2 separate regions of the Homo sapiens genome follow, and region 2 is linked to region 1. A link means that fine-mapping ties the variant in region 1 to the expression of a gene that starts in the linked region. Tissue or cell type: whole blood. Region 1 holds a variant in brackets; the other region holds the start of a gene. All regions are shown on one strand. Distances are from middle to middle.

Region 1 (8,101 bases):
TTGCCTGGTGCTCCCAGGCAGGCCCAGCCTGAGGCATCATGTTGAGGTGTCCCCCAACACTGTGACCCCCTGCGCTCCTTCCTCTGTTCCCAAAGAAAACCCTATCCTGAAGCAGATGCTCCCGGAACACCAGCAGAAGGTCCTGAACCACCTGTCCCCTGACCTACCACTGGCTGTGACCGCCAACCTGATAGACAGTGAGAACTACTGGCTCCGCTGCTGCATGCATCGCTGGCCCGTGTGCCACGTGGCCCACCATGGCGGCAGCTGGAAACGCATGTTCTTCGAGCGGCACCTGGAGAACCTGCTAAAGCACTTTATCCCAGGCACCACAGACCCTGCGGTGATCCTCGACCTGCTGCCGCTCTGCCGGAATTACGTGCGCAGGGTCCACGTCGATCAGTTCCTTCCGCCGGTGCAGCTCCCGGCCCAGCTCCGGCCGGGCGACCAGTCCGACTCAGGCAGCGAGGGAGAGATGGAGGAGCCCACCGTTGACCACTACCAACTGGGCGATCTGGTAGCTGGCCTGAGCCACCTGGAGGAGCTGGACCTGGTGTACGATGTCAAGGACTGCGGCATGAATTTCGAGTGGAATCTCTTCCTCTTCACCTACCGTGACTGCCTCTCCTTGGCAGCCGCCATCAAGGCATGCCACACCCTCAAGGTACTGTCTGCTCCCAGCCTTCCCCCCACCCCTTCTCAGCATCTCTCAGATTCCCTCTCCCCTCCTCTTCCTCCTCTATTATTGCCTTCTTCCTATTTCCTTCTCTTTCATTGGCCAAGTGTTTTTTAATGCACCCTGCACCAAGATACACGGTTCTGGGGGTGTAGAGATGAACAAGGCGCTGCTCTCCCAGTTCACCAGTTGGTTTCATTGAACAAACAGCTGCGCTCCAGGCCCTGTCCTAGGTGCTGAAGATTCAAGGATGAGCAAGATTATCATTTGTGCCCTCTGTAGCTAACAGTCTGATGGGATAAAGGCACTAATCAGCAATCATATAAACATAAAATTGATACTAGAATAGGGTTGCCAGATGTAGCAAATAGAAATACAGGACATCCAGTTAAATGTGAATTTCAGGTCCAGGCACGCTTGTAGTCTTCCAGAGACTGAGGAGGCTGAGGTAGGAGAATCCCTTGAGCCTCGGAGTTCAAGCCTGCAGTGAGCTGCAATCACACCACTGCACTCCAGCCTGGGTTACAAAATGAGACCCTGTCTCCAAAAATTTTGAATTTCAGATAAACAGCAAAGAATTTTTATAAGTATGTCCCGAATATTCCATGGGGCGTTCTTATTTATCTGAAATTTATTTTTAACTGGGCATCCTGTACTTTTTTCTGGTACCCCTGAATTGGGATGAATGCTATAAAGAAGAGATACTCTTATGAGAGATTGTAAAGGAGCATTTGACCTTGCAAGGGAAGGCTTCCCTGAACAAATGTCACTTACATAGAGATTAGAAGGAGGAGGACGAGTTACAGTCTCAGAGGGAGGAGCGTTCCAGACAGAGGGAGCAGTGCATACAGGCTCTATGGGCAGAGTGAACATGGCCAGCTCAAAGAGAAAGAGAAGACTGTGTGGCTGGCGCAGAGTGTGAGGTGGTCAGCCTTGCTGGGTGAAGGAGGCTTTGTCCAGGAGGCTATCTTTATCCTTAGGAGCTCTGGGACACCATCCAAGGGTTTTAGGCAAAAAAGTAGGTACCATTACTGGATTTCACATGTGAAAATGTCACTCCGTCTGTGAGGGAGGATGGCCTGGGCAGGGCAGCAGTGGACATGCAGATTACCTAGGAGATCACTGCCAAATCCAGGTGAGGGTGAGGGTCATTTCAGCGAGGGTAGTGTCTGTGGAGACTCAAAGGAGTGGAGAGAGTCAACACATATTTAGGCAGACATGTGTCTGGCATGCACCTGGCCACACTGGCACAGGGAGGATCTGAAGGAGAAGGAAGGAGAAGGAGGTGAGGTGCAAGACCTCTGGCTTGTGAGGCTGGATGGCTGGAGGGACCATGTGCAGAGACAGGGAATGTGGGAAGAGGATCAGTTTTGAGGGGGAAGAGTGTAAGTTTCAGTTTGAGGCATCTCAAAGAAGGGGTCATTTCGTTAGTTGGGTAGAGGGTCCGAAGCTCAGATGAGAGGTCTGAATTGAATGTGGGAATGTGTGCCATCTTCATGAAGGTGGCAGTTGCAGCCCTGGGTTTGGATGGAGTCTCACAGGGGAGAGCCAAAAGCAAGACAACAAGAGGCCTGGCATGTGGTCTCAGTGGAAGAAGAAGAGCTTGCCAGGAAGCCAGAGGGAGGAGGAAATGGGGAAACATGGCATTGTGTCACAGAGCAAGGGAGGGGTATGTTTCAAGTAGAGGGAGTGAGCAACGGGGTGGAATAGAGCTGAGGACTGGATTTAGTGAACATGGAGGTCACTGAGGGGGAGCTATTTCAGTGGAGTGGCAGGAGCAGAGGCCAGATAGCAGTGGTTTCTGGGGAGAGTGGGAAGTGAGGAATGGGTGGCTGTGATCAGCTTTTTCAAGAACTTGGCTGCGAAGGGGAAAAGGTACAGCCATAACCGATGAGAGCTTTGGGTTCCTTCAGAATAACTCACATATGTTTAAAACCAGTGTAAGGCTCCATCCAGTTGCAAGAAAGGGGATGAATGTAGAAGAGAGGCACGGGTTCATAGACCAATAAGTCAGTGCTTGGTATCAGGAAAATGACAGGTTCCCATTCAATGACTGAGAAGGCAAGAGGAGAGTTCACCTGCTGAAAGAGGGGGCTCAGCAAGGAGGCCCCTGAATTCTGAGGAGGCTGCAAAAAGCTGAAATAGTTGTTGTAGATTATAAGAGGGTATTTTGGCCAGAGAAATATAGTTAGATTGGCATGCAGCGTTACAAGCCTATTGGTGTTTCCGGTGATAGCAACCAGTCCCATCAGCTGATGTTTTCTATTTTGTCAGTTGCTTGCGCACAGGCATGCAGAAAATAGAGAGTGGGGCTGATCCAGGGTTAGGGCTTTGCCAGAGAGACGCAATGAAAAGAGAAGAGACACAAAGGACTCAGCTGGGTAAGAGGGGTATAAAAAGGAGTGAACCGAAGGGTAGAGAGAGAGAGGCCAGACACTCAGAGGTCTCAAGGGAGAGAGAGGAGTGGGACAAGCCAGCGGGAAGGTGAGGGGGAGAGGTTCCCATGGACAATATTCATACTGCCAGCCCCATCCCCTTTCCTTCATTCCTTTATCTCATCCTTTTCCTGCTTCTCCACCTCCCCACTGTCTCCCTGGTTCTTGCCCTGGCAACCTCCTTCAAAGAGGTCCTCTCCTTGCCCTGGTGGATCTTGGCTGGGAGAGGAGGATGCAGTGAGGGGCTGAGGCCTCAGGCAGGCTTGGATTCCAAACCTGTCTCAACTGCTTCAATCACTGCATTACTCTGGGGAAATAATGTAAGCCTCCATTTTCTGTCTGTAAAATGGAGAGAACTTTCTCTTCTTCATCGAGATGCTGAAGGTTAGAGATAATGGTTGTGAAAGACCCAAGCGGCCGGGCGCGGTGGCTCACGCCTGTATTCCCAGCACTTTGGGAGGCTGAGGCGGGTGGATCACGAGGTCAGGAGATCAAGACCATCCTGGCTAACACGGTAAAACCCTGTCTCTACTAAAAATACAAAAAATTAGCAGGGCGTGGTGGCGGGCACTTGTAGTCTCAGCTACTCAGGAGGCTGAGGCAGGAGAATGGTGTGAATCCGGAAGGTGGACCTTGCAGTGAGCCAAGATCACGCCACTGCACTCCAGCCTGGGTGACAGAGCGAGACTCCGTCTCAAAAAAAAAAAAAAAAAAAAAGATAAAAAAGGAAGACCCAAGCAGCATACCCAGCATGTAGTAATTGCTCAATAAACAGTGATCTTTCCTCCCTGCTACCTGCCACCAATTCTACACTACTCTGCCATGCTGGTAGGCCTGGCCCCCTCCAAGACCCAGCCAGGTGGCCAACACTAGGTGAGCCAAGTTTGCCAAAGATCTAGGTGGGCAGGCTGATTATCCCTGGCTGGCAGTTGCTGTAGACCCTCTGCCTGCCCACAGATCTTCAAGCTGACCCGAAGCAAGGTGGATGATGACAAGGCACGCATCATAATTCGAAGCCTTCTGGACCACCCAGTCCTCGAGGAGCTGGACTTGTCACAAAACCTCATTGGAGACCGTGGTGCACGAGGTGCTGCCAAGCTGCTGAGCCACAGCCGCCTGCGTGTGCTCAACCTGGCTAACAACCAGGTGCGTGCACCCGGTGCCCAGTCCCTGGCTCACGCTCTGGCACACAACACCAACCTCATTTCCCTCAACCTACGTCTCAACTGCATCGAGGATGAGGGTGGCCAGGCTCTTGCCCATGCCTTGCAGACCAACAAGTGCCTCACCACGCTGCACCTCGGTGGCAATGAGCTGTCTGAGCCCACCGCCACACTCCTGTCACAGGTGCTCGCCATCAACACCACACTCACCAGCATCAACCTGTCCTGCAACCACATCGGGCTGGTGAGCCACCTATTCTGGGCTTGTGAGGGTGGGTGTGGAATCCAACTGCCAGGGGTACTTGTGGGATAATTGTGAAGATCACAGAGTTTACATACTACATACTGCATCAAGTATGCACACATACTGTGTATCCCAATGATTATTTTTCCTTTAATCCTTACAGTTACCTAAGTAACTGTATATTAACCCTAAGCATATTTAACCCTAAATATATTTAAGTATATAACTAAGTATATTTAACCCTACTTTCTAGATGGAAAACTAAGTTTCAGAGAGGATAGTGAGTTGCCCAAGGGCATCAAGTCAGTAGCAAGTGGCAAGGCTACGATTCAAACCCAAGATTGATTGAAAGCCTGAGTCCTTTCTAATAGACTGTGTCTCTAAAACTTTCTTAACCAAGTCTGAGAGTAAGAAATGCAATTTACGACCAGGCACAGTGGCTCA[C/T]GCCTGTAATCCCAGCACTTTGGGAGGCTGAGGTGGGTAGATCACCTGAGGCCAGGAGTTCGAGACCAGTCTGGCCAACATGGTGAAACCCCATATCTACTAAAAATACAAAAATCAGCCCAATGTGGTGGCATGCACCTGTAACCCCAGCTACTTGGGAGCCTGAGGCAGGAGAATTGCTTGAACCCAGGAGGCGGAGATTGCAGTGAGCTGAGATCGTGCCCCTGCACTCCAGCCTGGGTGACAGTGCGAGACTCCGTCTCAAAAAAAAAATGCAATTTACATGAACACTGACATAAACATAATATTGAAATTTATGACGTGATATATGCTGATATTTTCCTTTACATTCCATTCTATTGTATTTTTTAAAATGCTTCTGTGACCCATTAAATTGACTTTGCAACACACTACTGGGTCACAACCACAGAATGGTAGCATTCTGCCTCCCAACGTGAAATTCTTTCACATTGGGGCTAGCCCACCCAGCCCAGCAGGGGTTGGAGCTGTGATGACCATTGAGCAGGGCCCTCCATTAGGTCACTGAACCCTCTACTAAACCTCCCCATGAGAACAGCCTTGCTCACCTACACAGGCACATACACGCACACACACGTGCATGCGCGCACACACACACACACACAGTTTCTAGAGGGGGTGCTGTTGACTGCAAGTAATAAAAAGCTTAATCAGAAATGGCTTAAGCAGGAGGAATATTCAGTGTCTCCCACAACCAGAATTAGAGGGTTGTAGGGTCGGTAAACCCCTGGGTTCAGTGCTACCCTCTGCTCTGCCCACCCCAGTCTCATGGCCAATGCCTCGCTAGTGCTTCTGTCAGTCCCAAGATGGCTGCCACAGTTCTGACATCTCATACAGGGACATGCCCAGAGGCAGAAACCGGGAGAACACCTGCTCCCTTTTCTTCTCTTTTTGGAATGAGGAGAAGCTTCCCAGAAGCCACCCTCTCTCAGCTTCCCCCTCACATCTCATTAGATTTGTCCCACATGCCCATGGCTGAACCAAAGGAATGGAATTATCTTCATTGCCAGAGATTCATGTTTTTCAAACTAGTAGGGTTGAGATGTCAATTTAGTGGGTATTGGCTACCATTTTTCAAATGGAAAAGAACAGAATATGTCATCATGCGTCACAAATAGGTTAAGTATTGTTTTGTGAAACTTTTGTTTTAGTCACATCTACCTGAAAATGTGTAGTATGTGTGTCAGATCCTGGGTAGTGATGTAAATGACCCCTTCCTTTGCACCCTTCTCCCAGGACGGTGGGAAGCAGCTCCTGGAAGGCATGTCAGACAACAAGACCCTCCTGGAATTTGACTTGCGCCTGTCAGATGTGGCCCAGGAAAGCGAGTACCTCATTGGCCAGGCCCTCTACGCAAACCGAGAAGCAGCCCGCCAGCGGGCCCTGAATCCCAGCCACTTCATGTCAACCATAACTGCCAATGGCCCTGAGAACTCTGTGGGATAAAATGACCTGACTTGGATCATGGCCCCAGCCCCATCCCTCATTTCATACCCCTGCCATGCCTGCTGCAGAGTATCACACTGGTTCAGAGGGAGCGGGGAGGGGGACTGTGAATAACCTTGGAGTGATCAAGGGTTGTATGGATGGAGACATGAGGCAGGGAAGGGAGCCTGGCATGGGGGAAGAAAGGGTATGCAGTAGGGACCCAGCCTTTGTGCCCAGGGAAAGGATATTACTGGACACCCACAAATGACCAACTTCTTTCAGGAACAGGGAAGTCAGAGAGGTGTCTGAGGGACTGTGCCTGCCAGATTCTCCCGTTGGGGCTGCCTGCCTCCCTGACTCCCCACCATTTTCTTCTCTACCAAACAGATCCTTGATCTTCAAACACACACACACACACACACACACACACACACACACACACACACACACCCTCTGGCTACAGCAGGGCTATGCCTGGCTCTCTCTGCCACCCTCATCCCTGTAGATGCATTTCCCTGTTGCTTGACTCTGCTTTAAGTGATCCAGTTCTACAGGCCACGCCATCCCCTAGTTCCCCAACTCCCAACCTGGGAAGGGGACAATGAGCTGACACCAGGGGCTCAGACCCAGTGGACTCCTCTGGGGAGGCAACTGTAGATGACAACTTCCAGGGAAGGATGACACAATCCCTGCCACCCACCCCAGAGAGCTTCCCTGGGAGGGAGGGAAAGAAGTGCCACACTGGGACAGGAAGTCAGTGAGTCATCCACGACTTTATTATCCACCAGTTTGATTTGTACAATCTTTGCGCTTAAATCCACGACAAAAAGGCCACAGTGTGATGCACCCAATTGACAGAGACCTGTCTTCTCCCCAGCCAGGCCCAGCCCACCCCACAAGCCCTTGTCCCCAGGACACATGGAGCCTTCCAGGTGCCCTACATGAGTCCCCCATCACTCTGTAGCTGTCCACCCTGGGGCCACACCTACAGGAATCACATCAGCCCCCAGGGCCACAAGAGACCTAGCTGACTGATTCAGGCTGAGCGCCATTGCCCATCCTCCTTGGGCTGATTCATTGGCCCAGAGCCTCCAGAACTGTGTCCCCAAAGGGCAGGTCATGGGCTACAACCCCAGTCCAGGAGTGCCTGCTCTCCAGGGACTCCTTCCGCTAAGCAGGCGCTGAGCAGAGCACCAAAGGGGGCTTGGGAGTGACTGCATGTGTGTGCCTGTCTAGGCAACCTAGAGTCTGTCTGTGCCTGACACCCTCTGACAGTTCCGGAGTGCAAACGTGTAGGTGTGAGGGTGTGTGTGTGTGTGTGTGTGTGTATAGCCACAGCTGCTAGCAGAAGTTCTAATTAGAGAAACAAGAACATTCAGTGTAAAGTTTAATTTTAGAGATTAATTAATTTTCTGGTTTTCATTTTCCCTGGCAATCAGTAAAGCTACCAAGAAAATAGACCAAAGAATTGGTTTCTCTCTAAGTCTGTGCATGTGTGGGAGATGAGGCTGTCTGAGACGACCTAGGCAGAAATGGTCAATACAGGCAAAAATAATAATAGAGGTCCCCCTTCCCCTCTTGTGAGACCAGGCTCTGTCTCAGGAACAGGCCTGAGGGAGGAGGAGCCACGTTCCTCCTTCCTTGGAGCCCTGAGGTGGCCAGGCTGTCCCCA
Region 2 (8,086 bases), 36 kb after region 1:
TATTTCTCTTTGATCTTCTTAGTTTTCTTCTTCTTATCCTTACCGCTGTCATCCTCCTCATCTGAACCCACATCTTCGATCTTGGGTTTTTCTTCATCATCTTTATCTTCCTCTTCTTTCTCACCTTTCTCTTCCTCTGCCTCATCATCACTAATTTCCTTCTCTCGTTCCTTCTCCAACTAAGTAACAAAAACAGAAGTTAGCCTTGGAGTACAAAACACTACCAGGGAAAGCAAAAGCCAGGGACAATGAGATTCTCCAGAACAGGAAACATCCTGCACGTTAAGTGTAAAAGATTTAAAAGTCCATACTCACATAAAGGGTGATGGGATAGCCTATGAACTGAGAATGCTTCTTCACTACTTCTTTGACCCGCCTCTCTTCTAGGTACTCTGTCTGATCTTCTTTAAGATGGAGGATCACTTTGGTACCCCTGCCAATGGGCTCACCTAGAAGAGTCAATTACAAGCGTGTAACAGGGTAAAAAGTATATGCAGTTGAGACCAGCAATTAGTAAGTATCAGCAGAACTGCTGTGAAGAACTGCTTTACAGACAGGATGCCCAAAATTTCTGCTACTGGTGTGAGCCCAGAAAATCCTAACCCAACTACCTTGTAACAGAAAAGCTAACTTACCATGGTCAGCACGCACAGTGAAGGAACCTCCAGCAGAAGACTCCCAAGCATACTGTTCATCATCGTTGTGCTTTGTGATCACAACCACTTTCTCTGCCACCAAGTAGGCAGAATAAAAGCCAACACCAAACTGCCCAATCATGGAGATGTCTGCACCAGCCTGCCAACAAGTTTAAAGTCAATCACAAGTTTTAAAGAAGCAAAAAACCAAAGAACACAGATAAGTATGAATGCCTACAGAACTGCAATACCTGAAGAGCCTCCATGAATGCTTTAGTACCAGACTTGGCAATGGTTCCCAAATTATTTATGAGATCAGCTTTGGTCATGCCAATGCCTGTGTCTACCAAAGTCAGGGTACGTTCCTGAGGGTTGGGGATGATGTCAATTTTCAGCTCTTTACCACTGTCCAACTTCGAAGGGTCTGTCAGGCTCTCATAGCGAATCTTGTCCAAGGCCTGGAAATACAAACAGCAACTTACTTTTGCTCTTTCCAAGACAGACTCTTGCTCTGTTGCCCAAGCTACAGTGCAGTGGCAAGGATGACAGCTCACTGCAGCCTTGACCTCCCAGGTTCGAGCCATCCTCCCAACCCCAGCTTCCCAAGTAGCTGGGACTACAGGCACATGCCACCGTGCCCAACTAATATTTAATTTTTTGCAGAGACAAGGTCTCGCGGTTGCCCAGGCTGCCCTCGAAATCCTAGGCTCAAGTGATCCTCCTGCCTTGGCATTACAGGTGTGAGCCAACACGCTCAGCCACTTTTGCTTTCTTAAAGCCCGTATCTTCAAAGAAAATCTTGGTTTACCTCTCTCAGCCTCAAATCTGATTGCCCCCTATCTTGAGGCTTTAGAACCAGTTAGTTCCATGAGCCCACTTATTCTGGACATAGTCCCTTCCAAGTTCAAGATGGCCAGAGTAAAACCCATCTTTTTGGAATAGCTGCAAGTTTACCCCCTTCAATAGTAGTCCCCAACAAAGGCCAAACCACTCCTTTCCCCTCCTTCTAGAGTATCAAAAAAAAAAACCATGCCAAATGTGGAAACCAGAGCACCTACATCAGAAGCATTAGAGATCAACTCCCGAAGGAAAATCTCCTTGTTGGAATAGAAGGTATTGATGATGAGGGACATGAGTTGGGCAATTTCTGCCTGAAAGGCAAAAGTCTCCACCTCCTCCTCTCCATGGTGCACTTCCTCAGGCATCTAAAATAAAAATCTCATTAATTACAAAAGAACACTAAGGCCCCATGTTTAAAAATCCTAAAGGTCATATCATTTGTTAGGACCTTAGACAGTGAGTTCAGACTGGTTTAACCGGAGTACTATCCCTTCCCAAGACTAAAAATGCATTCTCTTAAAGATCTCAGACTACACACTAAGTGGGAGGCCTGAAAATTCAGAAGGAAAAAGAAAATAAGCTAAATATTCTTCAACCAAATGTCACAGAACCCACCTACTTAAAGAATGGTGACCAGCAGCCTCAGCATCATCTGGTAGTATGGCAGAAAAATCATAATGTTGGTCCAACCCAGGTATCTAGAGATCCCAAGTAATCCTTACACAAATTTAAATGTGAAAATCACTACCTACAGTTCTTTATTTGGGGGAGATCAAAGTGACTAGTTTAAGATAAAAATGGCACTAACTTTAAACTGCTCCCCCTGAGGTGTCAGTTCCTAAGACCAGTCCAAGGGCGGGACACTCCTGCCCCATAGGGCAGGGAGGAATAACCTGGGATCCATACGATACCCACCGGAGGAGCAATTAAATCCGGACAAAGAATTCTTAAGCCAAAAGCTCCACCACGACCCTTTCACAGCACAAAATTACAGAACAGGACCAAACCCAAGAAAGATGGTGGCCGTAGCCACCAGGCCGACACTCGTCACTGCCGGACATGCGTCGGCCAGGACCACGCGAGGAGGGGGCGCCGCAGTGCACCCTCCCTCGCCCCAGCATCCGGGCACTGGGGCGGGGCGCCAGAATCCAGAAGCTTCCAGAACAATCTCAGCTCTCGAGGAAGGGCGGAGGAAGGAGCCCATGAATCTTCCAGAACCTGCTCCCCTCCCCGCCCCTCCTCCACCGGGACTGCAAGAAAGATCTGGAAGGAGGGAGTATCGGGTGCTGGAGACCGAAAGCTCTCTTCCCACACCGTCAACCCTCCCTCACAGAAACAAAGCACCCAAGAAGGCTTTAACAACGCGTCCGATAAGAGAGGTGACAAAGCCAGTCCCACAAGGCCGTGCTGAGTCACCCGAGCGGGCACCCCCGCCACCCTGCGGTCCCCCTCCGACGCCCCGTAGCCGCGTCCGGAAGTGGAGGGGCAAAAATGGCAGCGTCCCGGGCCGCGCGGCCACCACGTGCAGCTGCCAGCCGCCCACTGCCCCAACCCCACAGCCCACCTCGCTACGGCCAGCAGGCGCCGAGAGAAAGCCCCACCCCCCAAACACACTAGAGAAAACCGAGGAGGACTCAAAAAACCTCACCCACCACTACCCTCACCCTATAAAAATCCAGAGCGTTATCCACAAGCCACCCCGACATCTAGACTAAGGCTCCCTAAAGGACAGAAAAAAACAAAAACAACACGAATACAGCACTAAAGGGAAAGAAGCCTAGCGGAGATCTCAGCCTTACCTTGAAAAGAAAAGGATTATACGTAATAGTGAGCAACGTAGGCTTGCTTTCCGATACCCAGACAGTCCCAACACTGCGCCGGAGTGACTCGAGAGAGCTACTGCGTGCCCCAAGTCGCCCTATATAAGGCGAAGCACAGTACAGCCGCCCTCCTGTAGATCCCTCCGCCTTAAAGGAGTATGATTGTCAACCCCGCACCTGCCGCCACCAGCCCACCTTGACGTCATGGTCCGAAAAAAAGAGGGGGCGGGGAAGAACCCAAGCAACGGATCCGCCCACACATTTGCTTGTGATCACAGCCCCATAGTTTCACGTCTAGGACATGACTCCATCAAGAGCGGGGATGAGGAGTGCTCATTTGGCATAAACGGTGTCTCTACGGGCGAGGAACCCACTGACCTCCCTAAACACTTGTGGGGCAGGCGTCCCCACACCCAAGGGCGGGACTGGGGGGGACACCGAAAAAGAGCGGAGGCAGCTAACCACGCGGACCACCGCTCCCAGACCCAATCTTCTTCCTAGCATCTGCCCTACACATCTCGCGTCCCGACAGAGGGACTGGCATTCGGGACCCAACCTTGGGTAGCCCCAGATCCCGACTCTCGCAGGAGTAGAGGAAGGGCGGAGGGTTCGCGCTGAGGGGCAGCTCAGCGTAGGGGGAGGGCGCCGGCCGGGGCTGGCGGGGACTCTTTGCCGACATGCGGCGGAAGGCGCGGCGGCGGCACTGCGGCATTTCCAGCAGTTTCCAGGCCTGTCTCGGCGGTCCCGCCCCCTCCCCGCGAGGCTCCGCCTCTCCGGCTGCGGCCGGGGCAGGGTTTTTGCAGCGACCCCACCCGGCGACCCGCTCTGACCTGTCCGAGAGACGCGGGTACCAGCCCAATCCTCAGGGATGGGATGGAGGGTTGGGGAGGGATCGGCTGACCCCTCCTTCCCCGCGTCAATCACACAACACCCAGGCACCTGGGGCGGCTCTGCGGGCGTACACTTTTGCAGACTGAGAGTGGAGTACCTGCGGGGGGGACCCCCCTCTAGCCCCTGCGGCCGCCACGTACACGGAGCACGGGGACATGCGCCCTCCCTACGCAGGCACGTCAAGCCCTTTCTCAAGCTGGTTCGCTTTTTTTCCGCCCACTTCGCTCCTGCAGCCATTTGGACCTGGGAAGGAGGGAGTCTCTGGGAACCAGTGCAGGGCAGCCGGAGCTCTTGGAGGCCGCGTGACGATGCCGGCCACAGAGCGGCTGGCCAAGTTGTTCCCCTTCAGCCTTGGCACCAGAGCCCCTAGGCCATGCCCCTGGCCAGTGAGCTGCCGTGTCTGGCCTGGCTCAGCCGTTTTGCCTGCCCTCCAGTTGGCAAGCTGTCCTTGCCTTTCCAAGGCCTCATCCGAAAGCCTGCTGGACCCACAACCCCTCCAGGAGAGAATAGCCACTCCCTGCTCTGTGCCCTGTAGATGTCCATCTGCTCCCCTTCCTGGCCCACCCCTGGGATGCTTGGGAAGAGTTTCCCCACAGCCACCCACATCGTCCTCCCTCACCAGCCCTGTTGTTACCCAGTCTACGATTCGTTAACAAGTTTTGTTCATGTGTTGAATACCAAAGAACAAAGGGTGTCCCTTGCTTTCCTCTTCTTTGTCCCTGTCCACTTCGCCATGCCTGCCATCACCATCCCGATTGGATATCCTTTCTCCCTTTCATTATGGTCTGCAAAAAGCCTATGGCTGGGAGAAGTCTATAAGAAGGGGCGTTGGGTGCTCTATTCCTGACCAAAACCGCAAACCAGTGGGAGCGTGATCCCTTAACGTGTCCTCTCCTTCTAAGCAGAGCTCATTAAAAATCTGCTCCCCAGTTCACAGAGAGCATTCACAAACTCTCACTCTCCTGTGAGCGGATGAAAGTCAGTGTGCACATTCTGTCAACAGGGAAGTGGCTTCAGTGACTCCCAAGGCCCGTCTACTCAGAGTCCTTGCTGCACTAGCTCCCTTTCTGCTCCAGAAATGGAGCAGGGATGTGATCTCACCCCTAGGACCTAAATCCAAAGCAGGAATCACTCCTGTGGATGGGCTTCCCCTGAGCTGGATCCTTTCTGTGTCAAGACTCGACGGCTTCCTGAAGACTTTCTAAATGGGAAAATCTCAAATGTTACACCAGCATAGAAATTCCACTTTCTCTGCTGGGCACAGTGGCTCATACCTGTAATCCCAGCACTTTGGAAGGCCGAGGTGGGTGGATCACCCGAGGTCAGTAGTTCACAACCAGCCTGGCCAACATGGTGAAAAACCTCGTCTCTACTAAAAATTAGCTGGGCGTGGTGGCACATGCCTGTAATCCCAGCTACTTGGGAGGCTGAGGCAGGAAGATTGCTTGAACTCTGGAGGCAGAGGCTGCAGTGAGCTGAGACCATGCCATTGCACTCCAGCCTGGGCAACAAAAGAGAAACTCCGTCTCAAAAAAAAAAAAAAAAAAAAAAGGGGGCTGGGCGCGGTGGCTCATGCCTGTAATTCCAGCACTTTGGGAGGCCGAGTCCAGCGGATCACCAGGTCAGGAGTTCAAGACCAGCCTGGCCACTCTGGTGAAACCTTGTCTCTACTAAAAATACAAAAATTAGCCGGGCGTGGTAGCGCGCCTATAGTCCCCGCTACTTGGGAGGCTGAAGCAGGAGAATCACTTGAACCCGGGCGGCAGAGGTTGCCGTGAGCCGAGATCACGCCACTGCACTCCAGCCTGAGCGACACAGTGAGACTCTGTCTCAAAAAAGAAAAAAAAAAAAGAAATTCCACTTTCTCTTCCAGGAAGCCTTTCAGGAGACCGCCTACCTGTGTCCACAAGCTCCATCGTTTTCCACTCATTGACACTCACTAAGCCTCCACTGTGTGGAGATCCTGGGGATGCAGAGATGCATACACAGGACTGGGAGCCCTTAACCCACTGGAGGCTGCAGCAGCCAAGTGTGAACCATAGGAGGATGGGAGAAGCCGCAGAGGCCCTCAGCTCAGCTTGGGAAAGGGAGCAGTCTTAGGACCATGCCTAGCCAGGCCATGACATGGAAAGCATGGAAAGGAACAGAGCCCCATTAGAGGAACCATAGCTCAGGAACCCCAAAGGGAAGCACAAGGAGTTGAAAGTAGCCCTGCAGATGGGGGTTAGGTCGCAGAGGGCTGCAAATGCCACTGGTAAGAAGTCCTGATCTTAAGAGTGAGAGAAGTGAAGGTTATAAAAGACAGGCTTAAAACTATGTCTTCCAGACTGGGCACGGGTGGCTCACGCCTGTAATCCCAGACCTTTGGGAGGCCAAGGCGGGCGGATCACCTGAGGTCAGGAGTTTTGAGACCAGCCTGACCAACATGGAGAAACCCCGTCTCTACTAAAAATACAAAATTAGCTGGGTGTGGTGGCACATGCCTGTAATTCCAGCTACTCAGGAGGCTGAGGCAGGAGAATCGCTTGAACCCAGGAGGTGGAGGTTGCGGTGAGCCATGATCGCGCTATTGCACTCCAGCCTGGGCAATAAGAGCAAGATTCCGTCTCAGAAAACAAAAACAAAACAAAAAAAAACTACACCGTCCGAAGCCTTATTCCCAGCCTTGGAACCACTGATGTTCCCCAGATCCCTTTTATTCCTCCATGAAACCTCCTAGGCCCAGCCCAACCTTCTGCTGTCGGAGGGTGGCCAGCTAAAGCAGGGATTAACAACCCAAGGTCTGCAGCTGGTGGGCCTGCTGCTTGTTTTTTGAATGGCCTGTGGGCTAAGAAGGGTTTTTACACTTCATAATGGTTGAAAAAAAAATCAAAAGAAAGATATTATTTTGACATGGGAAAATTATATGAAATTTGAATTTCTGTTTTCATGAAGTTTTTTTTTTTTTTTTTTAGACGGAGTCTCACTCGTCTCCCAGGCTGGGGTGCAATGGCAGAATCTCAGCATACTGCGACCTCCACTTCCCGGGTTCAAGCGATTTTCCTGCCTGAGCATCCCAGGTAGCTGGGATTACAGGCGCCCGCCACCACGCCCGGCTAATTTTTGTATTTTTGGTAGAGACCGGGTTTCACCATGTCGGCCAGGCTGGTTTCGAACTCCTGACTTCAGGTGATCTGCCCGCCTCAGACTCCCAAAGTGCTGAGATTACAGTCGTGAGCCACTGCGCCTGGCCAATTTTAATGAAGTTTTGTTGAAACGTAGCCCTTGTCTTTGACTGCTTCTGTAACATAAAGTCAAAATCGATAGGTGTGACAGAGACCATAACGCTTGCAAACCCTAAGACATTTACTCTCTTGCCTTTTACAGAAAACGTTTGCAGACCCCTAAGCTACATAAAGCTCAGCAAAGTCTTGCAGGGAGCACAGAGACTCAGCCTGGACAGAGTCTCTAGGGTTCACAGAGGCCACGGAGGGGAGTTAAATAAAGCTCAGTGAACGAATAAAACAACTGAGGGTAACAGGACATCAGAGATATGAGCATGGAGAGTAGCTGTGGACCCTGAACCCCTAGAACAAGCAGCCTCTTAAGCTCAGTGCCTGCCAGGTGTGTCCCGTTACTTTCTGGGCCTTCCCAGTTCCACGAGCCTTAGCTCTCTGAATTCCTGAGGGAATACCCTGAACTGACACCCTCCAATACTAGTGAGCCTGACATTCAGATGCATTGGACAATTGGGCAGGTCTGCACAGCCAGCATGGACTCCATCTCTTTGCCTCCATTTTCACATTCCACTAGAACACAAGGGAAGTCTCTTGCATAATTTTTGCTCACTGTATTGTTAGTATTGTTATTTTTTTGATGCCATAGAAAATGGAAATTTTTGTTCATTTTCGGTTTCCCAGA

What was found. PIP is the estimated chance that this variant, and not a neighbour inherited with it, causes the effect.
Region 2: it holds the start of HSP90AB1, and the variant in region 1 is fine-mapped to the expression of HSP90AB1 in whole blood (INTERVAL, PIP 0.97).

Annotation. Positions count from the first base shown.
Region 1 is chr6:44,278,527-44,286,627 of GRCh38, reverse strand. It overlaps TMEM151B (transmembrane protein 151B), which reads right to left. Exons shown (of 3, transcript NM_001137560.2): 3 at 7,184-8,101. It overlaps DRC5 (dynein regulatory complex subunit 5), which reads left to right. Exons shown (of 5, transcript NM_182539.4): 3 at 96-664; 4 at 4,069-4,518; 5 at 6,238-7,894. The coding sequence ends at 6,447. Among named protein-coding and RNA genes, the nearest start is that of TMEM151B, 12 kb to the right of the region's middle. The variant C/T (reference allele first, on the strand shown) is at 4,963.
Region 2 is chr6:44,242,384-44,250,469 of GRCh38, reverse strand. HSP90AB1 (heat shock protein 90 alpha family class B member 1) reads right to left here and starts at 3,369. Exons shown (of 12, transcript NM_007355.4): 1 at 3,275-3,369; 2 at 1,694-1,840; 3 at 887-1,093; 4 at 636-795; 5 at 316-449; 6 at 1-179. The coding sequence starts at 1,840. RefSeq lists enhancers at 2,270-2,319, 2,804-3,558, 4,313-5,067 and a silencer at 3,870-4,109.